Linked DNA regions of Homo sapiens. The protein of the gene in region 2 interacts with the protein of the main gene of each other region in a biochemical or structural test. Each region holds a gene or a part of one and is shown on either strand. Other genes may lie near its edges. The genes, in order: SEC23B and MAN2A1.

The links.
Region 1: the proteins of MAN2A1 (region 2) and SEC23B interact in a test that uses a peptide from one of them, tested with the Homo sapiens proteins (one study listed by BioGRID).

What each region holds. Positions count from the first base shown.
Region 1 is NC_000020.11:18,544,988-18,560,059, forward strand, and holds part of SEC23B (protein transport protein Sec23B), read left to right. Parts: intron 1-968; coding exon 969-1,046; intron 1,047-3,621; coding exon 3,622-3,783; intron 3,784-6,101; coding exon 6,102-6,188; intron 6,189-9,247; coding exon 9,248-9,403; intron 9,404-10,120; coding exon 10,121-10,186; intron 10,187-15,072. UniProt on the Homo sapiens protein: Component of the coat protein complex II (COPII) which promotes the formation of transport vesicles from the endoplasmic reticulum (ER).
Region 2 is NC_000005.10:109,681,900-109,697,529, reverse strand, and holds the start of MAN2A1 (alpha-mannosidase 2), read right to left. Parts: upstream 7,604-15,630; 5' UTR 7,113-7,603; coding exon 6,978-7,112; exon of another isoform or gene 6,431-6,977; intron 5,649-6,430; exon of another isoform or gene 5,628-5,648; intron 1-5,627. UniProt on the Homo sapiens protein: Catalyzes the first committed step in the biosynthesis of complex N-glycans. It controls conversion of high mannose to complex N-glycans; the final hydrolytic step in the N-glycan maturation pathway.

The DNA.
Region 1 (15,072 bases), on a different chromosome or scaffold from region 2:
AAAGTTTTTTCTCTTTTTTTAATGTAATAGTTTATTTTTGATAATTTTTGATAATTGAATGTGAACTTGCAAAAGTGTGTCTCACGAAAACTCCCATATTTGGGTGGATGTCCTGACTGGGGCTCAGGCTATAGGTCAGCACTGGACACTGGAGGGTGGATTTGGATGACACCCATCTGGCTCTAGTGTTCATTTGTACCCAAAGCAGTGAGGATGGGAGGAGGGGGCCAAGAACTAACCCCCAAGGAGTCCACAGTTAGGGGGAGGAGGAAGACAAAACCATTGAAGAAGGCAGAAAAGGGTTGGTTGGAGAGATTATGAGAAATAGGAAAGTGATGTATTAGCAGCTGAAGGAGAAAGTTTCGAGACATTTGGGCAGTCACCTGGCTCATGCTGCTAGGAAGTTCAAGAAGACGAGAACTGCGGAAGGACACCAGATTTTGTGGGAAGAAAGTAATTGTTAGAAATGGGGTTTCTTTAAATGATGAACAGTCCAATTCTTTAGTGACCAGAAATGTGTGAGCAGAAATAAAGGCGGGAAGAGAAAACATTGTGGTTCAGAAGTCTGCCATTGGGAGAAATAAATTTGAGTTTTAGTGTGAGAGAACATCAAAGCGTAACTATAATTGTTAGTTTTCATGGTGTTAGAGGGTTTTCATATGGAACAGGTGCCTGGAAGAGCTCACCTAGCTTCTCTGGTTAGGGCAGTCCTCAGGCCAGCATTGCCTGAGAGCTGATTAGAGATGCAGAATCTTCAGCTCCTCCCTAGAGTCTGCATTTTAACAAGATCCCCTGGTCATTTGCCTGCTCACTGATGCTTGAGAAGTGCTAGTCTAGGACTTATAGTAAGTGGCAGAGTTCAGACTGGATGTAGCTTAGTCCAGGAATATTTCCAGGTAATGCTAACTTAGATTTTTCTCTCTCTTTTTGTGTGTGTTTGTTTGTTTTTTGGTATTTTCTTTCCATAGTGTCAAAAGTTTGGACAGTATAACAAAGAAGACCCCACTTCTTTTAGGTTATCAGATTCCTTTTCTCTATATCCTCAGGTAAGTAATGTATGTTTCTAAAATAACTACAGAGCAATAAATTTTGATAGAAATTAACTTTATTCTTAGGGTAAAGTGAAGACTTTTTAATGTGTTGAGACTCAGTCTGTAGGTGACAGAGATTGTTCAACCCAAGTCGAATATGTGTCTAGGCAAGACAGCACCCTACGCCCTACAGAAGATAGAGATGACATGCAGAGGGGAGAAAACTCATGCATACATTTTCATGAACAGGCAAAATAGGATCATTGATATAAGGCCGTAAAAAATATCTCTCATGTGTAGAAGTTCTGGGGAAACAGCTACCTCAGCAACAAACCAAGAAAATGAGCACACATGGAGATGAAGATAACAAAACAAAACCACAGTTAGTACAACAAATATTTAATAATATGTCTGTGGTTATTATGTGCATCATAACCAGGAGTGAGCAATAAGCAGCTCCTGAAAGTAACTGCACTCTGCATGAACCAAGCCTTTGGAAGCCATTGGACAAGAGAGAGGAGCAGGAGAAGTAGATGAATTTCCGTCTCCATTGTAACTTAGGAAATAGAGCACAATTCATGGGTGTCTATAAGGATTACAGGAGCTGAGGCCAACTGAGTATTAAATATTTAGCACAATGCCAGTAACCTGTTCAGCACTAAATGTGACCTAGCTCCATAGCAGGTGCCTGGGACTCTGAGGTGTCCATGTGCCAGAGGTTAAAGCTGTGTGGTGTTGTGAGAAGAGCCCTGGACCGGCCAGAGTCAGGTTGAGGTTCCAGTGCTGGCTCCGCAGGGGCTGACCTTAGAGGAGGTTCCAAAGCCCCGTAGAGTTTGGTTTCCCACCTCTAGCAGTGGGGAGTTGGTCTGGTGAAGTGGTTTGCAGTTTTTTTTTTTTTTTTTTTTTTTTTTAAAGCCATGGAATCCTTTCTTTGAGAGGAGCTGCCCTTAAAAGCCAGCACATAAAGCAGACAGAGTTGGTGCTTCTCTGGTTGTGCCTGTGTACCACCCCCACACTGGGTCCCACCAGAGCCCTCATCCCTGGGCCCCTGAGGACTTGATGAAGACTCTAAGAGCACAGCTTGAAAACCAGATGAAATGCTTTCTCAGATTCCTTCTGTCAAGGCATTCTAGGAAAGAGGCCAACAGCCCAGTCTCTAGAGCCAGGCGGCCAGGTGTAGAGTCCAGCTGTGACACTCAGTAGTGGGGTGACCTTGGACAAGTTGCTCGCCCCTCTGTGCCTCAGTTTCCTCACCTGTAAACTAGGGATGGTAAGAGAACTTACCTCATGGGCTTATTGGAAGGATTAAATAGTTCTTGTCAAGTGCTTTGTGACTTGCATGTAGGATGTATTAGATGTCAGCCTTGATTATTATTTAGGAACCTATGATTGAATATTTGGAGTCTCAGGAAGCTTTACACTTCACAAGGCAGCTCATTTTCGTGTTCTGGCAACTCTTTAATGTGAGCTGAAAGTCTGCCCCCACCCCTTCTTCTCATCCTCGAGGGCGAGAACCTATGGTTGCAGTGTCATCCCTTGTCCCTTTCTCCCCTGCACCAACACTTCACCATCCCAGCTTGTGTCCTGAGCTGTCATCTGCTGTTCCTGTGCCTGGAATCCCCTTCCCCCTGGCCCTGTGGCCTCCTCAGCCACGTCTCTCAGGGTGCACTGTCAGTCCCCGGAGCTCTAGGAAGTCTCCTCCTGGCCCTCCACCCCCACTCCCCACTGCTATCCTGTACTCTGGCTCATAACTCGTAGCCCGAGTGTGCCTTTCTCACTGGGCCTGACTTCTGAGAGCAGATATTCTGTCTCCACTGCCTGGCACAGTGACTCTGGAAATAAACATTTCTTTGGCTTTCCTCTTAACTGTGGAAGCTTTGACATACCCAGAGGCCCTTTTCTTAAAAAAATTTTGTATTTTTTTAAAAATTTTTAATTTTTAATTTTTTTGAGACGGAGTTTTGCTCTTGTTGCCCAGGCTGGAGTGCAATGGCCTGATCTCAGCTCACCGCAACCTCCCCCTACTGGGTTCAAGTGATTTTCCTGCCTCAGCCTCCTGAGTAGCTGGGATTACAGGCGCCCACCACCACACCCGGGTAATTTTGGATTTTTAGTAGAGACGGGGTTTCTCCATGTTGGTCAGGCTGGTCTTGAACTCCCGACCTCAGGTGATCCGCCCGCCTCGGCCTCCCAAAGTGCTGGGATTACAGGCGTGAGCCACCACGCCTGGCCAAAGGCCCTTTAAAAAAAAAAATTAATTTTTAATGTGGTAAAACACACATAACAAAATTTACCATCTTAACCATTTTTAAGCATACCGTTGAGTAGTGTTACGTGTATTCCCATTATTGAGCAACTGATGTCTAGAATTTTTCACTTTGCAGAGCTGAAACTCTGTGCTCATTAAGCAACAACTCTCAGTTTTCCTCTTTCCCTAGCCCCTGGTGCCCCCTTATGCTTTCTGTTCTGTGAAACCAGAGAGCCCTTTTCTGGGTTCTCCTATTTCAGAGCCCTGAGGTAGATCTACTCTGTGGGTGTCTAAGAAGGTTACAATTATATGCATTTCTCTTTCCGTTCTTTGTGAATGCAGTTTATGTTCCATCTGAGAAGATCTCCATTTCTTCAAGTGTTTAACAACAGTCCTGATGAGTCGTCATATTACAGACATCATTTTGCCCGGCAGGACCTGACCCAGTCCCTCATCATGATCCAGCCCATTCTCTACTCTTACTCCTTTCATGGGCCACCAGAGGTGAGGCTCTACCCAAATGCTTTCCTGAGGATTGGAATCACCTAACATATATTCTTTTTTAAGCAAATTTACTTAGCAGAACTGTAAAAAAGAAGTAAAATTTGGAGTTTTTATAGTAATTTAACATTATTTCTATTAAAAAATACCTTTAGGAAAATGTCAAAGGACATATAAAGCTATTATTTGTGAAAGGCAGGAATAAATGTAAAAAACTCTAGGAAATAACTTGGATGCTTTCTTTTTCCTTGTGCTTGTATACTTACATCCAACAATTCCATGTCTTGTATCTGAAGGAAAGACTCCTAGATACAGAGTAGACTTTGTGCCAAAAAAAAAAATAGTAAAGGAACTACTATAATAGAGGATCAAATAACAATCCGAATGTTTAATATAGGAAAATAAATAAGTAACCTGAGAAATGCAGTTGACCCTCAGTATTCATGGAAGATTGGTTCCAGGACCTCCCTCAGATACCAGAATTCTTAGATACTCAAGTTACTAATATAAAATTACATAATATTTGCATGTAACCTTGGCACATCCTCCTATATACTTTAAATCATCTCTAGATTAGTTATAATACCTAATATAATGTAAGTACCATGTAAATAATTGTCATACTGTATGGTTTAGGGAATAATGACAAGAAAACAAGTCTGTACATGTACAGTACAGATGCATATTTTTTTCAAATATTTTCAGTCCAAGATTGGTTGAATTTATAGATGTGGAACCCACCGATACGGAGGGCCAACAGTATTCACAAAAAGTATGTAACATAATAAAATAGATAAGTCCTTATGTAAAAATGTTACATGAAAAAAAGTCAAAATAGAAACGTTTCTAAATATTCCCTGCAAAAATAAAGAACTATATGGAAAAAAACAAAATATCAATATTTGTTGTACTTGGGTACACATTTAAAAATTTTCTTTATCGAGTACCACTTACTTTTATTATTGAAATAATTACTAAAATAGCAGGGGGATCACATGACATCAGGAGTTTGAGACCAGCCTGGCCAATGTGGCGAAACCCCATCTCTACTAAACATACAAAAATTAGCTTGGAATGGCGCCAATAATCCCAGCTACTTGGGAGGCTGAGGCTGGAGAATCACTTGAACCCCGGAGGCGGAGGCTGCAGTGAGTTGAGATCGCGCCACTGCATTCCAGCCTGGGCAACAGAGCAAGACTCCCTCTCAAAAAATAAAAATAAAAAAGAAATAATTACATATATAAAAATTATATGTGTATATGTAAATATAATAAATTATATATGTATATATAAGAACTATGTATATAAATATATATGTATATGATTATATATGTATATATAAATATAAATTATATACTTATATAATATAAAATATTACTTACAAATAAATAATAAACGTATTTTTTTTTGAGATGGGGTGTCTGTCACCCAGGTTGGAGTACAGTTGTGCGATCTTGGCTCACTGCAACCTCCGCCTTCCAGGTTCAGGTGATCCTCCCACTTCAGCCTCCTGAATAGCTGGGACCACAGGCACGTGCCACTACAGCCCGGCTAATTTTTTGTGTTTTTGGTAGAGATGGGGTTTTGCCATGTTGCCCAGGCTGGCTTTGAACTCCTGGGTTCAAGTGATCTGCCTGCCTTGGCCTCCCAAAGTTCTAGGTTTACAGGCATGAGCCACTACGCCCAGCCATAATTTATATTTTGTAGTAAACTTTAAAAACTTGTATTAAATGCTGCTTTTCATATAGGTATCCGTATTCTGTCTCATCTACAGAGAATGTCTGTAGAGATTGCTAAAATACATACAAAACTGAGAATATTCAGAATTATTTTTCGTTCCAAGATCAAAAGATATCATTAAGCCTGGACAACATAGTGTGAGACCCTGTCTTTACAAAAAATAAAAAATTAGTTGGGCGTGGTGGCATGCACCTGTAGCCTCAGCTACTCAGGAGGCTGAGGTGGGAGGGTCACTTGAGCCCAGGAGGTCGAAGCTGCAGTGAGCCAGGGTCACATCACTTTACTCCAGGCTGGGTAACAGAGCAACACCCTGACTCTTAAAAAAAAAAAAGGTATCATTAATCTCCGTTCTCAATTGATGAGGAATTATTTGGAGCCTATTTTTCCTACAAAGTTGAGAATGAGTCAGAAGCAGAAAGTGGAAGTATGTCAGGAAGAAAAGGGGTGACTTACTGTGCTGGGCACCATTTGTAAATAGCCTTTGCTGTGGATACCAGGCATGGGATCAGGGTCGGGTGGAAGTGGTTGCTGTGTGGGGAGCAGGGAAGACCAATGCCATCTTTCTCTCTCTTTTTCTTCAGCCAGTACTCTTGGATAGCAGCAGCATTCTAGCTGACAGAATTTTGCTGATGGATACTTTCTTTCAAATTGTCATTTATCTTGGTGAGGTAAGATGATATTATTAATTAATTAATTTCTTTTTGTTTTTAAATTGGAGAAAAGGCATACACATTTAATGTGCACACAAGGAGAATTATTGTCCTTAACTATGGTTTTTGTTTTCTTCTCTTATTTATTAAGTTAGGTTTTTAATGACATTTGTAACCACAGTTTGGGCTTAGAAAGCACCATGGCTTTTATTCTAGTAAATCCCTGGAGTATTTGTATATTTATTAATTTTAATCATATTTGCTGTTAAGTATGGGCCAGGTGCAGTGGCTTATACCTGTAATCCCAGCACTTTGGGATGCTGAGGTGGGCAGATCACCTGAGGTCAGGAGTTCAAAACCAGCCTGACCAACATGGCAAAACCCCATCTCTACTAAAAATACAAAAGTTAGCCAGGCGTGGTGGCACACACCTGTAGTCCCATCTACTTGGGAGGCTGAGATGGGAGAATCACTTAAACCCGGGAGGTTGAGGTTGTAGTGAGCTGAGATCACACCACTGCATTCCAGCCTGGTCAACAGAGTGAAACTCCATCTCAAAAAATAAATAATAATAATAATAATATATGCTGTAAAAAAATCTCAGGTGGTTATTTTAAATCACTGTAAATTATTACCTTCGAAGTTAGGCAAAACTAGTTTTTTCTCCTCAGTAAATATTTTATACATACTGCTGTTCTTTCAGAGTTATATACATACTGCTGTTCTTTCAGAGTTAGTGTTTAGAGCTAAGGTTGTACTTTGATGAAATAACATGGCCCAGGGAACTTTACGCTGTGTCTGTGGATCCCTAGGATGGCTGTGGATAGCTTTCAGTCCATTTCTTTCTCAGTGGGGTTCATGCCCTGAGAAAGGGAATGGCTCCTCTGAATTATTTGCATCTTTATGGCAAAAAATCCTTTAATGAAGATGATGGTGATATTTATATTCAGTGATGCTTTTTCTTCTATTGTATGATCTCTACCTTCTTAAATTGGTTATTGATTTGGTTTCCTAATGGCCAACCATTAGAAATGATTTCTGATGTCGTGAAAAGATATAAATTGTGTTTCAGGATTCCTTCAGTAACTTAGGAAGTGTTAGTTTTCTAATACTCCTAAGTATTTTATAACTTTAAACTTTTTTCAGCATGTTAACACCCAGTCTGCTAGCCACTTGCACGCAAGTGCTAGGCTGTCAGTAATAGTCCTAGACTGAGAGCCGGATGACCAGCTGCTCTTCCCACTGGAACCTTTGGTATCAGTACAGTTGGCCCTCTGTATCCACGGGTTCCACCTCTGCAGATTCAATCAACTGCAGGTTAAAAATAATTTTGAAATAATAATAAAAAATAATACAAATAAAATATACAGCACAGGCCGGGTGTGGTAGTTCATGCCTGTAATCCCAGCACGTTGGGAGGCCGAGGTGGGCGGATCATCTGAGGTCAGGAGTTCAAGACCAGTCTGGCCAACATAGCGAAACCCTGTCTCTACTAAAAATACAAAAATTAGCTGGGCATGGTGGCAGACACCTGTAATCCCAGCTGCTCGGGAGGCTGAGGCAGGAGAATCGCTTGAACTCAGGAAGTGGAGGTTTCAGTGAGCTAAGATCGAGCCAGTGCACTCCAGCCTGGACGACAGAGTGAGACTCTGTCTCAAAAAACAAAACCAAAAAAACAGCACAAGAACGATTTATATAGTTTCTACATTGTATTAGATATTATAAGTAATCTAAAGATGATTTAAAGTGTATGGGAAGATGTACATCGGTTATATGAAATACTATGCCATTTTGTATGAGGGACTTGAGTATCTATGGAATTTGGTATTGGGAGGAGTGGTCTTGGAACCAATCTCACAGATACCGAGGGCCGACTGTACTAAGGATGAAGCTTTCTTTGCCTTAAGCTCATCTCCTTATCGACATTTCTTTTGCAACCCCTGATCCTGTTCATTCACTTGTTTATTGAGCACCTTCTTGTGCAAGTGAGGGGTTCTAAGGATAAAGACAGTGACATTGCTCTCACCTTCCCAAAGTCCTGAGCGTGCTGAACGCGAGTGTTCTTATGAACTTCTGGACCCTGGTGAGCTCGTGGGCATTTCCCATAGGCCAACAGTCAATCACAGCATTTAGACCTGGAAAACGGTAACTGCTACTTTGAGAAGGAGTGAGCAGGCTACAGAAGGAGGCATCTGATGAGAATCCTCTGCCTGGAGCCATATTAATGGCTCTGTTAAGACACATTGCACACTTGCTGTAGCCTCTTTCTCCATTTTTCCTCTCCATTGTCTTCTTGTTCTCCTAAATAACATGCGAAAGCACTTCACTTTATTTATAAAGGTATATGAATCAGTTAATGAATGTTTCTTGATTTCCTGTGTATACAAGATATTTTCTAGACCAGTTGTGGATGAGTATAAAAGAAGGAAGGGTGATAAAATGTGTAGCGTAGTCAGGGAGACAGATCGTCTGCTTTCCACAGTTTAGCATATGGCTTCTCCTCACTGCCTCATCAACACTCATACTTTGATTCTTACAGCTTTTGTCTCCTTTGCCAAGGGTACCCCAATTCAGGGCCCAGGGGGAGCAGGGGATGGGGGTGAGACAATTGCACGCAAGTCTGTATGACTACTGCTCACCAGAGGAGTGTAATATGTGTGCCGTTAGGAAAGGAGATGGGGGAGTGGAGTCTGTGTGGGCAGCCAACAAATCCCTTTCCTTACCAGATGTGCGGAGATGAGAGGCTAGACTGAGTGATAACAGTGGAAGTGGAAAAGGAGGGAGTCCACCGCTCCTTGGGATGAGTAATCCATGGGCTTTGTTAACTAGTTGATATAGAAGAGAGGAGGCATGAGTGACGCCTGACATTCCTGGGGGAATGCGCAGGCGGGGGCATTTTCCTCCTGCTTCTCCTCCTGCCGGTAGCTCTGCTTTGCTCTCCCTCTGAAGCTTGTCATTTTTGATATTAGACTTCTTCACTAGAAACAAGCTCTGGGTGGCGATGGTAGAATGTCAGTGTCAGTGAAGGCTGTTATTACAGTTTCCACAATAGTTTTGGTTGGTTTGTTTCTGTGTAGACCATAGCCCAGTGGCGTAAAGCTGGCTACCAGGACATGCCCGAGTATGAAAACTTCAAGCACCTTCTGCAGGCACCACTGGATGATGCTCAAGAAATTCTGCAAGCACGCTTCCCGATGCCACGTTACATCAACACGGAGCATGGAGGCAGTCAGGTGAGTGAGCTGAGTTCTAACTCCAGTGGTTTGTTCGTTTTATGATAGATTGTTATTGCTATACATCTAAACAGGATGGTTAATATTTTATGTGATGACATAAATTGACACACAGGTAATCTTCCAAATATGACTTCTTTTTAAATGAGTGGTCAGGCCAAGCGCGGTGGCTCACACCTGTAATCCCAGCACTTTGGGAGGCCGAGGCGGGCGGATCATGAGGTCAGGAGATCGAGACCATCCTGGCTAACATGGTGAAACCCCGTCTCTACTAAAAATACAAAAAATTAGCTGGGCGTGGTGGCGGGCACCTGTAGTCCCAGCTATTCGGGAGGCTGAGGCAGAAGAATGGCGTGAACCCGGGAGGCAGAGCTTGCAGTGAGCTGAGATCGTGCCACTGCACTCCAGCTGGGGCTACAGAGTGAGACTCCGTCTCAAAAAAAAAAAAAAAATGAGTGGTCAAAATGTGCTTATGTAAAGGGATTGCCAAGATAAAATACATATTTTATGTTTTAGGATCCTTAAATGGAGAGCCAGTGGGCTTAAGCTAAAGAAATAGATTACTGTGCAGTAAAACAATTCTAATTAGATTACTGTGCAGTAAAACAATTCTAATTTAACCAAACAAATGTTGTAAAAACTTATCTTTTTTCTGTTACATTAATATTAATGTCACTTTTTAATCTTTAAATCTTTTTGTTGTTGTTGTTGTTAAAGGCTCGATTCCTTTTGTCCAAAGTGAACCCATCTCAGACACACAATAACCTGTATGCTTGGGGACAGGTAAGAAATCTTCAGGTATTTGGGGAGGATGCTAAGCTAGTTTTTTTTTAAACTTGTTTTAAAATTCTACAAATTGGATCTCTTTTGGCCTGGAGACAGAATAACTGCGTAAGTTGGGTATTTTGCTGGGGAGTGGCGGGGAGGGAAACAAGTTGAATAACATTACTGGGCCGGAGGTTGAGGGGGCTCCCTGGGTGTGTCCCCTTCCACAATATACAGCAGAACATACCAGGTTCAGGCCAGGGGACAGAGCACTGTACTGTGGCCTCCATGGTGGTGTCCTCCGTCACACAGCCTCATGGCCCCTAGTCCTCTCCCCACCAAGAATACAGGGCAACTTGTCACCATCGGTTTTGCCGCCTCCTCACTTTCCAGCCTAATTCCTTCCCTTTTCTTCCCCCAACCCCGCCTGATTACTACTTTATCTAACTGCTCCCAGCATTTATGTCTCTCTCAGATGAGTCTTTCCTTTCATTCTGTTTTCTTAAAACATTTTTAAATTAAATTTTTTTGAGATATTGTAAATTTACATATAGTTGTAAGAAATAATACAGAGAGATCACCTGTATCTTTTACCCATTTTCCCTTAGTGTTAACATCTTGCAAAAACTATAATACAGTATCACAACCGGGATATTGAGATTTTTAAGGTCAAGATGTGCAGCATTTCCATCACCACACTTATGCACTTTATTTCTATTATTGTTACATTGTAATATATAATGAAATAATTGTACAACTCACCATAATGTAGAATCAGTGGGAGCCCTGAGCTTGTTTTCCTGCAACTAGATGGTCCCAGCTGGGGGTGACGGGAGACGGTGACAGATCATCAGGCATTAGATTCTCATGAGGAGCATGCAACCTAGATCCCTCACATGCGTTGTTCACAATAGGGTTTGCACTCCTATTAGAATCTAATACTGCTACTGATCTGATGGGAGGTGGAGCTCAGGTGGTAATGCACGTGATGGGGGAGCAGCTGTAAATACAAATGAAGCTTCACTTACTTACCTGCCACTCACCTGGTGTGTGGCCTGGTTCCTAACAGGCCAAGGACTGGTACTATCCGTGGCCTGCAGTTGGGGACCCCTGATTTAAAGTGTATGGGAGGGTATGCATAGGTTATATGCAAATGCTACACCATTTTGTATTAGGGACTTGAGCATTTGTGGATTTGGGGATCCACAGGAGGTCCTAAAACCATTCCCCCACAGATACTGAGGGATGACTGTATATAGAAATACAATTGACTTTGGTATGTTTATCTTGTATTCTGTGACCTTCCTGAGTCGCTTACTACTCTTAGGAGTTTTTTTGTAAACTTCTCAGAAATTTCTACTTAGACAATCATGTCATCTGCAAGCCGGGGACAGTTTTATTTCTTCCTTTTCAATCTGAATAACTTTTACTTTATTTTCTCAAAGAATCAGCTCTTCATTTCATTGACTTTATTATCTTTTTATTTTCAATTTCATTGATTGCTGCTCTAGTCATTGTTATTTCCTCTCTCCTGTTTGCAGTAGGTTTTTAAAAACTCTTGGCTGGGTGCGGTGGCTCACGCCTGTAATCCCAGCACTTTGGGAGGCCAAGGTAGGCAGAACACGAGGTCAGGAGTTCGAGACCAGCCTAGCCAACACGGTGAAACCCCCGTCTCTACCAAAAATACAAAAATTAGCTGGTGTGGTGGCATGCGCCTGTAGTCCCAGCTACTTGGGTGGCTGAGGCAGGAGAATTGCCTGAACCCAGGAGGCGGAGGTTGCAGTAAGCTGAGATCACGCCACTGCACTCCAGCCTGGGCAACAGAGCAAGACGCTATCTTGAAAAACAAAAAGAAGTGAATTTATTATAGACAGCTTATAGTTGGGTCATGGTTTTTAATGCACTCTGCTGAGCTCTCTTACTTGGTATATTTAGACCATTTATATATAATGTAATTAATGATATGTTAGGGCTTAAGTGTGCCATTTTATTTTTTGTTTTCTGCTTTTCTTTTTTCATCTTACGTACTTTTTTCCTGCCTTCCCATGAGTTATTTGAACATGTTTTAGGATTCCCTTCTGACTTGTTTGTAATGTTTTTGAGTGTATCTCCTTATTTAGCTTTTTAAGTGGTTGCTCCTAAGTGCCCTAGGTTTTTTTATTTTAATTGAGATGAGGTCTTGCTATGTTGCCTAGGCTGGTCCTAAACTCCTGAGGTCAAGCGATCCTCCCACCTCAGCCTCCCAAAGTGCTGGGATTATAGGCATGAGCCACCACACCTGGCCAGGCCCTAGGTATTACATCATATATGCATAACTTATCACAGTCTACTGGTGTTCAAGCGAAGTCTAGAGACCTTACCTCCCTTTTCAACACTTTACTCTCCTCCATCGGTAATATAATTATGTTAAATATTTCCTCTGCATACATTTAGTATCACATCAGACAGTGTTATAATTTTTGTTTCAAGCATCAAACATAATTGATAAGTCTTAAAAGAAAAACCTATTATATTTCTCTACATGGTTGCTTTTATTGTTTTCTTTCTTTTTAGAGATCTTTTAGCCATTCTTTTTTTCTTTTTTCTTTTCTTTTTTTTTTTTTTTTGTTTTTTTGAGATGGAGTTTTGCACTTGTTGCCCAGGCTGGAGTGCAATGGTGTGATCTCAGCTCACCGCAACCTCCGCCTCCAGGTTCAAGCAATTCTCCTGCCTCAGCCTCCCGAGTAGCTGGGATTACAGGCATGCACCACCACGCCTGACTAATTTTGTATTTTTAGTAGAGACAGGGTTTCTCCATGTTGGTCAGGCTGGTCTCGAACTCCTGACCTCAGGTGATCCGCCCGCCTCAGCCTCTGAAAGTGCTGGGATTACAGGCATGAGCCACCGCGCCTGGCCTACTTTTAACCATTCTTTTAGCATAGGTCTTCTGGTGATAGATTTTTAGTTTTCTTTTATTTGAGAATGTCTTGACGTCCCTTTCATTTCTGAAGAATATTTTCTCTGCATATAGGATTCTGACTAACAGCCCTTTTCTTTAAGCAGTTGAAAAATATTGTGCTGCTTCCTCTGGCCTTTATGGTTTCTTATGAAAAGTTCACTGTCAGTCTCATTGTTTTCCCCTGTAGAGAAGGTGTCATTTTCCTCTGGCTGCTTCCAGTAGTCTTTTTCTGTTGTTAGTTTTCAGGGTGGATGGGCAGGGGCAGAGAAGAAAGTGTAATTATGACATGTCTTGGCATGGATTTCTGTGGGTTTATCCTGTTTTGATTTACTCAGCTTTTTGCTTCTGTAGGTTTCTATCTCTTGCCAAATAGGAAAGTTTTCAGTCCTTATTTCTTTGAATGCCTTTTCACCTGCTCTCTTTTCTTTCTTTCTTGACATCCAGTGACATGAATGTTAGATCTTTTGCAGTACCCCAGGTACTACATTTCCATGTATTTTCTTTCTTTTGTTCATTTGGGTAACTTCTATTGTTTTGTCTTCCAATGTATTGATTCTTTTTTCTGTTCTCTTTCTGCATTGAACCTATGCACTGCGCTTTTTGTTTGTCACTGTATTTTTCAGTTACAAAATTTCCTTTTGGTTCTCCGTGACTTCCACTTCTTTCCTGGGACCTTGTTGTTTCTTTGCTGAGGCTTCCTATTTTTTCATTTGTTTCAAGTGTGTTTGTAATTGCTCATGAAGCATTTTTATCATGGCTGTTTTAAAATCTTTGTCAGGTGATTCTAACATTGTTGTCAACTTAGTGTTAACACCTGTCACTTGTCTTTTTTAATTCAGGTGGAGGTCTTGGTAATCACTTTGTGTAAGTGATTTTTTTATTGAAACTTGGACACTTGAGTGTTTGTATGAGACCCTGGATCTTATTTAAACCTGCTACTTTTCGCTGATTTTTTCTTACACTACTCTGACAGGGAAGGTGGTTGGTGGGGGGGGTGTCGGGGGCACTGGTGGGCTCCATTACTGCCAGGTGGAGAAGTCCAGGTTTTCCACTGGCCTCTGTTGACACCTCGGGGTGTCTAGTGATTTCTTGTTACTGCTTAGTGGGAATGAGAGTTCCAGCTCCCCCATAGCCTCCAGTGAGACCGCTGTGGAGATGGCCTTGTTACACTTGGGTGATGGTGAAAGTCCTGACCCTCCTCCAGGCCTCTGAGGCCACCCCAGTAGGCAGGCGGAGGGACATATATTTTGCCAGGTTGCGGTGGAAGTCCAGGCTCCCCAAATGGCCTCTACTGACACCACAGGGGTAGGAAAATTTTTTTACTTGGCCATTGGGGATGAACTTCCTGGTTCCATACTTAGCCTTCTCTGGCACCATCTTGGTGGGAGTATTAGGGTGCCTTGTTACTGCCTTGTGAGGGTAGAAATTGTAGCTGCCCACCCAGCCTTTGCTGGTTCAGGTGGGTCAGGGCCACAGTTTTTCCTCTCATTTTTGCCCGGAGTACAGTGGTTATTATCTAAGATTGTTCTGTCTTGCTAGGCTGCTTTAGTCCTTTGGCTAGAGAAAGTGGGTGTTTTTTGTTGTTTTGTTTTGTTTGAGTCTGTGCTCAATGACAATTTGCCAGCTTCCTCAGCTCCAAATTCAGAGTATATGAGGCATAAGAAAGCCCAAGGAACTCACTGCTGTGCATCCTTGGGTCCCAAGGTCTTTAGTTTTTCTGTCTTCTCTCCACCTTTAAAAGTCTTCTTATGTTTGGTTTACATAAGATGCCCGAAGTTTTCAGTTGTACTTAGTGGGAGGAATAGAGAAAAGTATATATTCTATTCCTTCCTCGAAATCCTCTGAAAACATTTTGATCATGCTTACACTTTTCTAATTATAACAGTATGGTTTCATTTTAGAAAATTTGAATATGTTTTAAAAAATAAGAAAATTTAAATTACCTAGAATCATTATTTAAAGAGTT
Region 2 (15,630 bases):
CAGGTGGCAGACAGATTTCACTCATAGTTAGCTGACTCAGCAGAGTTCAAAACCAGAGGCCTTGGAGACAAAAGAAGGAAGATTATTTGTCAAGAACTTCATTCTTTCCCTAACCTCCCACCTCCACCCCACTTTCGTAAAAAATGCTATTTAGAGGACAAAATGAAATGATCAGGAGGAAAGTCTCTATCCACTCTCCTTATTTTCCAGTTTCTTTCCCTGCTTTTTCTCATCTCAAGAAGATATTTAAAATGTTGTAACCAGAATCATCAAAATTAACAGAAATAAAAACAATACACTGAAAAGTAAACAGTCTGCCTGAGAAAACTGCAGACATTTCAAAACATTTTTGCAGACAATTTTTATACTACCTTATTAATCAATATATCTTATCTTCCTATGCTAAGAGGAATAAATCTGGATAAGTGCCAACCTGTAATTCAGCTGGAAGAAAGTAAAAGATGATCTATTTACAATGACCTGACCCTAATGTTTTTCTCAGAATACACACGTCCAATTGGAAAAGAATTTTTTTACGTTCCATTATAAGAATCTTCCATTTTTTCCTTCAACTTACCTATGAACATAATCTATCCTTGAAATTTTTTGTAACATACTACAATCTAGAATCCTAAATGTGTAAGTGAATTTCAGGCATCCTGAGAAAGAATAGAGTTCACCCATCAAAAAATGCTAATTGGCTTTTTGAGCTTCGGCCTTTTGATCAATCCTTCCTAAAACACAGAAGTGCTAACGACATGTACTGGGTATAAAGAAGAGGCCACAGCCAACACAGTTTCAACAGGGATGATTCCCACTCCCAGAGGATATTGAGAGCAGTGTCTGGAGACATTGTTGGTTCCTACAACTAGGGGTACAGAGAGAGAACAGTGATGTTGGCAGATATCGGGTAGACAGCAAGGATGCTGCTAGACACCCTACAACGCACAGGACAGCCCTTAACACGAAAGAATTCTCTGGCCCAAAATGTCAACAGCAAAGAGGTTACAAAGCCTGGATAGAGGCAGCAAATGGTAGAGTATGTCCAGTTTTAAACTAAAGTACTTTCTCTTCTTTAGAAAACAGTATGTTAGATTTAGAAATTTAACATTAAGATATTTAAGAGATACCAACCAGGCGCAGAGGCTCACGCCTGTAATCCCAACATGTTGGGAGGTCAAGGCGGGCAGATCACGAGATCAGGAGATCGAGACCATCCTGGCCAACATGGTGAAACCCCGTCTCTACTAAAAATACAAAAATTAGCTGGGCATGGTGGCTTGTGCCTGTAATCCCAGCTACTCGGGAGGCTGAGGCAGGAGAATCGCTTGAACCCGGGAGGTGGAGATTGCAGTGAGCTGAGATTGCACCACTGCACTCCAGTCTGCCAACATAGTGAGACTCCGTCTCAAAAAAAAAAAAGATATATACTAGATACCTACTATCCACCTGTCTGCATAAAATATAATTACCTTAAACAGGGCACTCTTTCAGAAAAGCTATGATATGACCTCAAGTGACAGAGTTCATCAAACCAAATGATTTACTTCCTCCCTATTATAGGCACATTTAGCTATACTCACTAAAGCACTAGATGTGAGCTCCATTTCAGTACAATTAATCCTCAAACCTGTCTGAATTTAAAAATGGTTTCAAACTTAAAAATAGCAGCTTGGCTTGATAACTGAAACAGAAACCCATTTTAGTTAAAATGTCCTACTTCCTCTCCTGATTAACCTACTAATAACAACTGAGAAGCAAAAATCACTATTTTAGAGTTCTTCCTCCTTGCCTTAGTTCTGCTCAAACTTTTATAAAAGCTGCTGCTATCAGGAACTTTTACCAAGACAGAAGGGATAAAAAATGCAATAAGGCCTTTACAATCCAGCAAATACAGGTCATCAGAGCTGCTAAATATCCTTTCATTTTCTTAAAGATTACAGAAGTTGGAGAACAAGGGAAAACTAAGACTCCTGAATGCAAAAAAAGCTAAGAATAAACCAGGTGATCAGCAACAGCTAGTGAACCACTCATTCCAGGAAACTCTCAACACTTCAGTCCTTCAAAAAAGACTAAAGTTTTCAGTTATCACAAAAAGCAATAGCTGACTCAAAAACAAATAAAAGTGGTCATTTTAGCCACTATTTTGCCCACAGCCCAGACACCTCTTAATGCAAATTAAAAGCTAAGAGAGAAAATCCCCTTCCAATAATACAATTGTGACATCTCCCTGACAAAAATATTTGTTTAGGCCCTGATAACAGTGTTCATCTGGGAACAACACACCCAATTCAATTTAAAAAAAACAAAAAACAAAACATAAACTACTATCTTCAGACCACAGACAGTCATGAGTATCTGGCCCAGTTGGTTTACAGGAAATAAGTTTGGGTCTTAGTGAAAAATGCTGATCAGGAAGAGACCCACAGGGCTGTTGGACTGAAGAGGAGTTAGAGGACACCATCCTCAAAAGGCTCTAATGTTTGTTCTTGCATTCCTAAATGCTGGATGCACTATCAACGTTCCATCACTTCCCAAAAAGCACAGATCTCCGCATTATATCCCAGAAAATAAGACAATCTCCCTCATACAAACGTGAACAAACCCCAGCACCAAGTGCTATTGTTTATAAATAGACTGCACTCAAGGAAGGGGAAGGAGATCATATTTTCCTTATATGTCATTCTTAAGTAAGATTTACAGATTTATGAAAGCAAGAAAAAAACTGGGGAATCAAAGTCCTAGTTATATGTATTGCCATGAGTCAACTTTCATTAATAACATCTACTATGCTGGACTCTTAAGTACTACTGATGTAAAGTATGTAAGCACATTTCTGTATGTGTATTACAGTAAGTTAAAAAAAAAAAACACAAAAGGCAACTGGGAGCAGTGAATCACACCTATAATCCCAGCACTTTGGAAGGCTGAGGCAGGAGAATAGCTTAAGGCCAAGAATTTGAAACCAGTTGGTCAACATAGTAAGACCCCGTCTCCACAAAATAAAAATTTTAAAACTGGCTGGGCACAGTGGCATACACACCTGTAGTCCCAGCTACTCAGAAGGCTGAGGTGGGAGAATGGCTTGGGCCCAAGAATTCAAGGCCACTGCAGTAAGCTGTGATTCCATCACTGCACTCCAGCCTGGATGACAGAGCAAAACCCTATCCCAAAGAAAAAAAAAAAAAGGTATACAAGTTCTCACCTTCTAATGGCTTTCAATCAAATGCTTATTTAAAGGCATTCTCACTTTCTCACTTGATAAATGTTACATAGGCAAAAAGATAAAGTTTTAACTTCACTTTCACATTTTCCATCGGAGTCTCAATTTCCATATTTTAAGAGTTAATATTAATCTCTACGGTCATATGCTACACTAATTACTTAAAAAGTGATCATTTGTTATACAAAACCTGACTCATTAATTTACTTCTCCAGATCCAAACATCAGACTAATTAATAAGACAACCCTATTATACACACCATAGATAGTAAGCACCTTGTGAAATCTGCTTGTAAGAAGTGATGACTAATTTCAGGGAGACCTTAACAAAGTTTCTCCTTTCCATCTGCTCAAATTCTTCCAAGTTATCATAAAGCATTTTCAAGACATTAGTCTCTGACCAACCTCTCATTCACAGTGGAATTTTTATTAATTTTCTTAGCTGAGATTTATTAACCCTGAAATATACACACAAGTTTCAACAGATTAGGCCCCCTGTTGCCTCTAGTCCTCCAAGGAATTCCTCCCAGAAGCAGAAGCAAGGCTTCGGAGTGCTTCAGGATAGACTTCCAAAGAATATCTTAGAGGCAGGCAGCTGTTCCGGGGTGAGAGAAACTGGAGCACCCTCGGCCAGCCCACTCTTGCCCCAGAGTCCAGCCAAATGGTGGAAAACACCAGAGTTGTGAGAGAAGAGAAAAAGAACAAACCCCCGCTCTCCAAAAAAACAACAAATAGATTGCTCTCAATCTAGGATGGTCTTTAAAAATATCTTGTTTACAAGATAGACCTAAAGCCTAGTGAAGGTTCCGTATCAACTGAAACCAACTAAATGGGCAATTTAGAGGAACCCAATACCTATCTAAATAAACCGTTCTACTAGATACCAAAAAATGACACATAGTGACCGACCTGCTTGGCTCTACTAAAACTCAAGAATTCAATACCCAAACTTGCCAAACAAATGTATTGCAACCTCCTTTTGCTATGTTTGGTATTATTAAGAATAAGTTAGAAGCAGTGAAAAAAAAAAGAATCAACTCAAGTTCTGGATGCTGGACTACACAATGGTTTTCATTATAATGTTTAGCTCTGAAATGAGCTCAAAGACATTCTGGGAAGGGTATAAATCTCTAGCAGTAAATGTTTCAGAAAAAGGACCATATTCATTATGGCTTCAAAATAAAAGTTCCTTTAGTCATAAGCTAAGGTACCAGAGAGCAACATGCTCTATACAGGGGGCAACCAACCCCAGGGCCATGGACCTGTTAGGAACCAGGCCACACAGCAGGAGGTGAGTGGCATAGCAGGTCAGCAAGCATTACCGCCTGAGCTCCACCTCCTGTCAGATCAGCAGCAGCATTAGATTCTCATAGGAGCACGAACCTTATTGTGAACTGCGCATGCCAGGGATCTAGGCTGCATGGTCCTTATGAGAATCTAACGCCTGATGATCTGAGGTGGAACAGCTTCATCCCCAAACCATCCCCCGAAACCCCCGACTCCCCCCATCCCCACCCCTGTCTGTGGAAAAACTGTCTTCCAGGAAACCAGTCCCTGGTACCAAAAAGGTTGAGGATCACTGCTCTATATTTTACATCAGATCTTTCCATAAGCAAATGGCAGCCTAAACAGTAGGCAACAGATTCCTAAGAGGCAAGACAACTCAGTGGCTGGGAGCCTGGGCTACAAAGGCTACCTGTTCAAATCTCAGCTTGCAGCTGTGTGATCTTGGGCAAGCTAATTAATCTCTCCGTGCCTCAGTGCCTCAGTCCCCTCGCCACTTAAGTTTTACCCTGTAAGATACGAAGGCTAATGTCACACACATAACGGTTAAGCTTACAGAGGGGTCTTAGAATGTCTATCTGCTTGAGGATTCAGTGGCCGTCCAAGCACTTAAAGAATACCTTCTTTCTGCAGTGAAAATCCAGTACAGAAAATCTGAGAAAGGCAATCTTAAATGCAAAATGTTCCACCTCCCAGTTGAGTACCAACAGCCTTCCCCTCCAGCAGCCACTTTGACCTTTCATCAAATGCTTTACGCTTAAAGCAGAACTTCAGCCTCTCATTGAGGACTAAGGATAGATATTACAATACTGGAATTAGCTTTGCCTAAGATTTCTCAGTAACTGAATGAGTCACTCATGTCTTTAGATTCTGAACAGAGAAAATGTCAAGGTTGCCAGAAAACCCAGGTCCAGATGTTTGCATAAACCATTTTCAAGTGATCATCAAGCCAAAGCCAAAGGACATTATTTTAGAAAACACTTTAAGTAAAAATATCACTTTTTATGATTTTCCTGTAATGGAGGAAAATCTGAAAATGAGGTTACTGGAGGGAAAAAAATTACAGTAATTTCAACCCCAAAATTACACAACATATCAAGCTAAGCTTAAAACTCCTTACCTTTTTCCAACTGTTTTCTTCAACCTCATCAAGAAGCACTGGACAAGCTCTGAGCTCAAGATTTAAAGATGCCCTCAGTGCTTGTTTCTATTTTCTCTGTCATACTACCTAGGGGAAGCAGAGGCTTTTAAAATTTTGATACATCTCTCTGCAGCAAGATTTTTAAAACCTCTCACCGACAAAACATGTTGAGTGCTCTGTATTGATGACAGCATCCATAAAAGGGTCTTTTTTCACTTTCACAATAATTCCAGTAAAGTTTTTACTTTAATCTCAATTAAATTCAAGCCATTTGCTCTAGCATAACACAAAAAAAATGGCAAGGATATTCTTTGGTCATTTAAGTTATCACAAAAGAGAAAAAAATATATATCAACTTCACGTCTAGGCTTCTCTTTCTCGTAAGTCAAGTAGGAATAGTTAGATTGCCCTGTCAGGGTTTGAGTTCTTCAGGTTCATTCGTTACAGAGCACACTACACACTACACAATACCCAGTTTCACCGCAATTTCTGAAGTGCACGGGTTATATTGGCAAGTAACTTGAAACTGAACTCGCACATGCCGCGCGGTGGATACCCTTCCAAAGGGAACAGACTGTGTCCGCTTTGCTTATTTTTGGTAACTTTAAATAAGACTTTGGATGGGTCGTCTTCCCAACTCATTTACCAATTTAACCACTGGACGCAGGACTGAGCGCCCCACAGCTTTCGGCCGGAGTATAACACGCGCTTCCCCACTCGGTTCCCCCTGTCTGCCACAAACAAACCAGATGTAATAGCTGAAGAATGACGACACTAAAATCAACCTAGAGATTCACATCTAAAAGGGCCGCAACACGAAATAAACTTCTCTCTCTTCAGAGGCAGCGGGGAAGAAAAAGAAAAAAAAGCCTAGGTGGGTTCGGTTTGATCCATTTCCGCGACTCCGTGCGCTCAGGGGCTCTGGGCTGGTGCGGGCGGCTTAACCCTGTGAGAGCCGAGAACGACCCCACCGGGATACGCGGGCCCCGGGCTGGCGGGGGGTGCCTCACGCCGCGCCCGTTCCCCCGCCAGCAGGTGCCCGAAGCCACCCCAACAGGCCGGGTGCGAATGCCGGAACATGGCCACTTTCCTGAGCGGGATGATGCCGCCGCCGCCGCCGCACGCCGCCCAGCACTTTGTTAACTTGGCGCGCCCGGGCGAGGTGGCTCCCAGGAGGTGATCATTGCCGTCCGAGAGCTACAGAGCCCCTGGCCTCGCCCAGCACGGGTGTGGGGCCGCGGCGGGAGGAAGAGGTTGGGTAGCAGCCGCTAACCAGGGGCCCGCACGCCTGGCCCCTCGGAGCCCCGCGCCCCCTTCCCAGGTGCTTACCTGAGGGAAGGAGCCCTCGCGGCGCGGGTTCCTGGGGTAGTCTAAGTGACCCCGGTCCAGCATCAGGTAGAGCGAGAAAATCACCACACAGAAGATCGCACTGCCGAACACGGTGAACTGGCGGCTTAACTTCATTTTCCTCGATAGACTCGGGGCCAGGACACTCTCCTCAGCCAAAGGAGACAGCGCACTGTGGACTCTAGGAAGCAGCCGCCGGAGGCTCCCTTCTCCCGGGCTGCGCGACCTCCGCGCTCTCGGATGCGGGTGCGAGTCCCCGCCTTGCTCCGCACCTAGTCTCCGGCGCCACCACACGCCCTTGGCCTTCGCCCTGGCCTGCCGCCCTCCCCGGGGTCGGGCGCCCCTCTCGAGGCGAGACTCGCCGGCAACTGGGAAGGGGGGCCCCCACAAACTTGATCGCAAGCTCAGCGCCGACCTCCGGCAGGGCGCGCGGGGCAGGCGGAGGAGAGGTCGCTGCCCGCACTTCCTGCCACCGCCGCCCCAACTGAGTCGGCAGGAAAAGTTTTCTCGACGAGGGCAGGCGTGTCCTCCTCACCCAGGGGAGGCGCGGGTTCGGCAGCTCCCGGGCCGGGGCCGCGCAGCTAGGTCAGAGAAGCGGAGGGGAAAGGAACAAGATCGCGAGGAGCCAAGCCCTACAACTTCTGGGCGGGACGGTCGGGCCCGCCCCCGCGGCACCGGCACCGCCCCCGCCTACCCCGACTGAGCCCCTTCGTGCTGCTGCCGCCGCCGCCGCCGACGCTGCGGCTGGGCCGATGTGCACCCCGGACTCCGGGGCTCACGGATTGATGAGTTTCCTCAGAGCTAGCGTCCGCTCGCCAGACTCTCCCGCCCCCCGCCGCCCCTACCTTCCCCCTCCCGGACCCAGGCTCCGCGGGGAGGCGCAGGGGGCGGGCGGCGGCAACGCGGAAAGAAGGAAAAGGAGAGCAGGGAGGAAAGGACCGTCCCCGGAGAGAAGCCCGCTCCAGCTGCAGCCGCTAGCCCCCTCCCTCTTTCCCGCCCCACAAACGCGGAGATGGCGGCGGAAGCGGCGAAAGGAAGCGCCGGTTCTCCAGCGCCACTTGGCGCTCCAGCACCGCCCGCCACGAGCAGGAGGAGACAGCGGCGGCGCAGCAGCCGCTGGGTCAATAGGCGCCCGCAGCGCCTGAGCCGAGCGGGCGGCTGGCCCCGCCCCCTCCCGACGCTCCGAGATGAGGGGGCGGGCCCCACGGCGCCCAATCACAGCGCGTCGCCCGGCGGACCCGCCCCGCGCCTGCCTCCCAGTGTCCCGGCGATAGGAAGACCTCACAGGGCTCTTGTGACCTGGCAGGCAGCTTTCTGGGAGTTGAGGCCTTCGGGGGCGTTCAGGCGCCAGCACCCCCACGTCCAACAGGGGTTGAGCTTACACCCCACTTCCCTTTGTTGCTCAGGTTTCCTATCCTAGGACACTCGGGCCTGGCGTGCCTGGAAGAGTACTTGGTGACGGGCTGGAGGAAATGCAAGAGAAGAGGGCTTGCACATTCTCTTCGGGCTCACTATTTCCTCCTTTGGTGACAGCCTGTTAAAACCTGGGGGAAAGGAGACTGACAAAGGGCCGTCCAGGCACATGTAGAAACATCTGACTACGAAATCCATGAGTGTAATCTGAGAAGTGATGCTTCTGCCAGTTATTGATTTATTGCCTCTCAGCTCCAAATTCGCCCTTTTTGACTGCACTGTAAAAACGGATCTGAGCCTTTTAAACAGTTTTTCGTTTGCCTTCTGGGACTGAAGCTTTATCAGCAGAGGGCGCTGAAGAGACATTACAGAAAAAAAGGATTTTGCTTCCTGATTTCTGTGTATTGATAAGCTTTTGCAGCATACCTGGCTTTCTCCACTGCCAAGGTCCTATAGTGCTCAGTAACTAGCAATTTCCTCTCACATGCCCAACTCTAGGAGCTTTGTAGAGGAGGTGAGACACTACCCCATGAATAACTTCCCTGGCACCCTAGAGGCATTTGCAGCAAGTTGCAGAGGGCACATCTTCCACAAGCTTTGCAGACGTAGCCCAATGGTGACTTCTCTGCCATTCAGTGAGCCAGGTCATGCCCTCTCCAAAAACGTCTAGATCTTAGCCCTGGGAGGAATTGGGGAGGTTCTTCATTGGGCACTCTGTCTCTCAACCCAAGAGTTAGTTATAAGGTTAGCTCCTTATAGCTGCTGTTGCTATATTCTTTAAAGTTCTCTTCTTGCTAGTGAATCCTTCATTACTCTAATCCTCTATTATAGTTAACAATTCTTTTTATTAAGCCTTCCCTGTCCCGGGAGTAGTCCCAAGAAATAGACCTGCAAAGATGGGATTAAAGGTCAGTTTGATTGAGGTTTTGAGCTTTAGCTCCTTGCCAAAGGGAAATGTAATTCATGACATGCTGGGCATCTCAATTAAGCAATTACCTGTGGTTGATCCTGATGAAGTGCCAACTGAAGCCTGTGCCTTGGGGCCCCAAGTGGCTGCTACACTTGACTGCTATGGTTATAAAGATGACTAGAAAGACTGGTGTGGGATGGATTCTTTTGCGTGCTTTTGAGTGGTTATAAAGAGAAATGACAAGCACAGGTTTTTTAACTCTCAGAGTTATGGTATGAGAACCAGAGATATTCTGCAGAATTCCAAAAGCTCTGGTTTATTGTAGCAACAAGAATTATGCTGAGAATCAAACAAAATTTTAATTTTCATGTTACTGAATTATAACTGCTATTAAATTCACACATATTCTGAGTTTTTCGTGTAAAATGGTGTTATTTTTTAATAATAGAATCTCAATACTTGAAATGGGTTGGACCCAGATGAAACCGACAATCTTAAACACGCCAACTCTTTCTCTTATCAGTGGAAGTAGGTTGCCCTCCAGTGTCTAAAGAGACTAGCCTTGCTTGAAAACCTTGACTATAGAGGATGCCACTATCTAGATGGGCTCCCTGATTTCAATGGGGATGACACGATCTCAGAATAGCAGAAACCAGGCAGCACATAACCAACAAAGACAAGGTGGGCGCACATGTACCTTAAAGGGCAGCAGGAAATCAGACTGCCTTGGCTTACGGAGCTGCTCTGAGAACAAAATAGATAGGCAGTTGAAATAGATTATTGCTTGATATTTATAACAGGTAAAAAGATCTAAGTCAGGTAGCCAAAACCTGACTTGAGTCACCACAGTGGATAGTCACAGTCTCTCAGTTCTCAGACCTAAGTCAATTCACAGACCCATAGTCCCTTGGTTGAAAGAGAATCTGTGTTCCCTTTAAGAAGGATCTTGCACCTTGGCTACAGTACACATGGCAAATTCTTTCAAGCTTTCCCCAAAACGACATGTGGCCATTTACTAGTGAAACTGCATTGGCGAAAAGGAAATACACAGATCATTTGAGGTTTACTAAACACTGGCTCTGAGTTGATGCTAATTCCTGGGGACAGAAATCACCACTGTTAGTCCACATACCAACTATGTGGCTACTTTCCCAGTGTAATTGGAATATGTATTAACAGCATAATTTTAATGGCAAAAACAGCAATTACTTTTGCACCAATCTAATAATTGTAACAGACATACTTAGCAACTGACAGGATCCCCACATTGGGATTTAGCCATAGAATGAGGGCTATTATTAGGGAGAGCTAAATGGAAGCTCCAGGAGCTCTTAGAGCTTCCACTTAGCTCACTAAACACAACACTGCATGGCTGGCAGGAATTGCAGGAATCAGTGCTATCATAAAAGTCTTAAAAGGAGTAGGAGTGGTGATACTTACTCTCATTTAATTCACCAGTACAGGATACATCTAGTAGAATAACTGTGGACTCATAAACTTAATCAGGAAGTGATTCCAATTGCTGCTGCTGTCTCAAATGTATTATTTTTACTGAAACAAATCAACATAGCACTTGGCACTTGGTATATAGCTACTGATGTGGCTAATGCTGTTTTCTCTATATCTGTTTGTAAAACCACCAGAAGCAGTTGGCTTTCTCATGTTAGGGCCAACAGGATACCTTCACAGTATTGTCTTGGGGGTATGTCAATTCACCTTAATATAGTCCACAGAGATATTGATTGTCTTGACATACCATCAAATATCACACTGGTCCACTACATTGACAACATTATGCTGATTGGACCTGATGAGCAGGAATTAGTAAGTATTTTAGGTGCTGTAATAATATATATTTGAACCAGAGAGAAGGAGATAATGATCTTGAGTATGAGATGACAACTCTAAAGTGGTCACTTCGGATGTGGGATATGTTCTAGGATGGTAAAGCTATATGAGGACAAAACCACTGAGTCACTGAGAGATGAATCCAAACAGATGGTGTGGGTTAGCAATGGTTAGGATTTGGGGGAAAAGGGGCAAAGTGATTGTTGCAGGGACTGGTCATACCAATCACGTGGCCATGGAAGGAAAGTGGTATAGGCTGAATGTTTCTCTTTAAAATACACGTGTTGAAGTCCCAACCCCCAGTACCTCAGAGTGTAATAGTATTTAGAGATAAGGTCTTTAAAGAGGAGATTAAGTTAAAAAGACGATTAAGTTAAAATGAAGCTGTTAGTAAGGCCCTAATCCAATCTGACTGGTGTCCTTATAAGAAGAGAGAGAGACCAGGGATACATGCACACAGAGAAAAGACCATGTGAGGACAGATTGGGATGGCAGCCATCTGCAAGCCAAGGAGAGAGGCCTCAGGAGAAACCAAACCCGCTGACACTTTGATCTTGGACTTCTAGCCTCCAGACTGAGAAAATAAATTTCTGTTGTCTAAGTTAGCCAGTCCTTAGTATTTTGTTATGCCATCCCTAGCAAACAAATACAGAAGGCAACCACCCAGCTGATAGAAAATACTAGGTAGGTGCAAAAGTATTTGCGGTTTTTGCAGGTAATGGCAACTGTGATTTTTTAAAGGTAATGGCAAAAAAACCGCAATTACTTTTGCACCAACCTAATATTTGCAAACCACATATTTGTTAAGGGACTAATATCCAAAATATATAATGAACCCACATAATTCAATAGTAAATAAATAAATAGCCCAATCTTAAAATGAACAAGTCACCTGGATAAACATTTTTTCAAAGAAGACATACAAATGGCCCACAGCTAATATTAAAAGGTGCTCTAGGTCGGGCACTGTGGCTTCTGCCTGTACTTCCAGCACTTTGAGAGGCTGAGGCGGGCAGATCACTGGTGAAATCCGTTCTCTATTAAAAATACAAAAATTAGCCATGTGTAGTGGGAGGTGCCTATAATCCCACCTACTGTGGAGGCTGAGGCAGGAGAATCGCTTGAAACCAGGAAGCAGAAGTTGCAGTGAGCAGAGGTTGCACCACTGCACTCCAGCTTGGGTGACAGAGCAAGACTCCATATAAAAAAAAAAAAAAAGGTTTTCTAATCATCAGGCAAATGTAAATGAAAGCCACAATGAGATATTACCTCATACCTGTTAGGATGGCTACTAGAAACATGTCAAATAATAATAAGAGTTGACCAAGAAATGGAGAAAAGGAACCCTTGTGCACTATTTATAGGATTATAGACTGGTAGGCCATTGTGGAAAACAGTATGAAGTTCTTAAAAACTTAAAAATAGAACTACCACATTATCCAGCAATCCCACTCCTGTGTATATATCCAAAGCAACTTCTCTTTTTCAGAAAATTAATTTGGATGATCTTGATCACTTATTTACTTTACTGAAATAAGATTTTACTATCACTTATGAAAAAGCTGTATGTTTTCCTATTGTTACTAACATATGAGTCTTTAGGTCTCCAAAAGCTGACAATAGCCATTCCAAGAGATGTGAGGTGTTATCTCATTAGATAGCTGCACTCCCATTTTCATTGCAGAATTATTCACAATAGCCAAGATATGGAATAAACCTAAGTGTCCATCAACAGACAAATGAATAAAGAAAATGTGGTATATATAAACAATGGAATACTATTCAGCTTTTAAAAAGGAAGGAAATCCTATCATGTACAACAACTTAGATGAACCTGAGGAACATTATGTTAAGTGACATAAGCCAGACTCAGGAAGACAAATACCTCATGATCTCACTTATACTGGTATGTGGAATCTAAAGAAGTCAAATTCATAGAAATAGAAAGTTGTATGGTGGTTGCCAGAGGCTGGGAAGTGGAGGAAATGGGGGGATTTTGGTCTAAGGGTATAAACCTTCAATTATTAGATGAATAAATTCTGGAGAGCTAACAAACAGCATGGTGACTATGGTTAATGATACTGTATTGTGTACTGAAAATTTGCTAAGAGGATAGATCTTAAGCGTTCTCATCATCCACAAAATAATGGTAATTATGTGAGGTGATGGATACGTTAATAAGCTTACTTGTGGTAATCACTTTATAATGGATACATGTATCAGAACTTCATGTTGTACACCATAAATATATACAATTTTTATTTACCAATAATACCTCAATAAAGCTGGAAAATAGATTGATAGATAATTGATAAATTGATGATAGAGATATACAGATAAATTAGATGATAAATACATAGGATGGATAAATAGATGAGATGACATAGATGACAGATAGAAAGATAGATAGATGATAGATAGATAGATAGATAGATAGATAGATAGATAGATAGATAGACAGACAGACAGACATTCTGGTTTCCCCAGGACCTTCAGAACAAACCTAGGTGCCTATCCTGGGATACAATCTTTTCATTTGGGAAAGATATGAGAAATTTTATCCTCCCTTTGGATCAGAGCAATTATCTCTGTCATTAGGGAAACAAATTGCTACAGATTTAATCCTTATGCTATGAGAAAATTTTCTAGCAAAAGTGAAAGCAAACATTCTCTATAGTGTACATGTTTCTGGGGCTCAGGAGGCTAGAGCTTTTTGTAGGAACACTGAAAATAGAGGGAAGGGAAGGTACATGAGGGCAGAACCCATATCATAAAGGTTCAAATTTGATTGCTTCTCCAGTACATAAAGCTTTTGTGACTTTGGGAAAGTTACATAATATCTCTAAGCCTCCATTTTCCAACATATTATATTGGGGTAGTAACAGTGATCTTTCAGCCTTGCTGTATGATTGCCACAGGTAGTGACATATTGGGAGAGCATTCACCAGATACTTCCATTTACTCTGGGAAAGGGAAAGATGGGTGCAATTGAGAGGTGAGTAGGGGAGAGAACATTGGAAACAGCTGCTATGGGACATGGAGAAGGAAGTCCATGTGGATAATTGGAGAGCATTGATTTCTCATGGAGCAAGTTCACCATTTTCTCCCTTGTCATCGATCTATGGCTTGAGAGCTCAATGAAAGTGTACTGTGAGCATAATCCAGGAAGAACCCCTTCTACCAGGATGCAAGAACAACGGCCACCCAAGGAATGCTCCAGGTTGGGAGCATATCATAGATATCTGTCATTTTTCCTACCCACTGATATACATTTTTGCAGTGAAGATTAAGTTAAAGTGAGCACTCAATGTAATTTTGAATAGGAAAGGTCTCGAAGGAGTGCTTGGGGTGAGGTTTCTGGAAGGCATGAGGTCTAGCCCCATGCTTCTGGTGATAAGTCTGTATGTGCACAAGAGCCTCAGCTTATATTTGCTAACAATAGGAAAATCTATCTTTTCTGTCAACTGATACTCTAAGTCTGTCTGAGCTCCTCAAAGGCCTAAATAGATCATATCTAAGGGGGACAAATTGGAAAGGAGTAGGACAAAGTTCTAAAGCCTAAAAACTTGAGAAAATTTTATAATTGTGGTTGCATAAAACTATAAATGAATGCGGGTTTAATCCTTTTCTCCACTCAACCTATTGTGAGAATCAGTCTGTCAAAGCCCTGAGCATCCTTACACATTCTTTCTGGGTATGCTAAGAATGCAAGGCCCTGACCATTATTTACTTGTGTCCTCTCAGGGTTGTGTTTGCAGGGAGCAGCCTTGAGCAACAGAGTAATGTCTTCTCCCAAACAATGAGCAGACTGACTTACCACACACTGTAAAGCAGTAAATTCCTCAAGCTCAATATTCCTTTGCTGTGACAAATCCACTGTGTATGTTGCATCCACCTGGACCCTTTCCCTCAGACCCTGTGGGATCTGGGGGACATGAGAAACTAGCACCGACATCAGGCTCAACATCTTCCTGTCTCTTTAACATCTTCCTTTGTCTCTAATCAGGGTGTCTTGTGTTTTCCACTGACATCCACGAAACAGTAGTGACCCCTCGACCTTTTACAGATCTTGAAATTACCCACCTACCTCAGAGACTCTTCATATTGTTGGCATAGCCTTTACCTCCCTGTGCCTTTCTTCCCATGAAAGGAAGCTGCAAGAGAGGATGAGTCAAGTAGCATAATACACTGCTGAGAGAGACATAAGAAGGTAAGGGAAGGAGAGCTGGAGAAGGACTTTATTCTTTATAACCCTTCTCACTATTTGAAATTATGTATTGACTTATTTTATGTCTATCCTCCCAATAGAATGCAAGCTGCTACAAGTCAGAGACCTTGTGATTCAACATTGTATCTTAGTGAGTAAAATAGTGTCTAGCAATATTGAGGCCTAATAAATATTTGTTGAATGAGTGAATACTAATCTTGGTCCTGAGCTACCAGTTGATGTGGATTGGTGGTGCC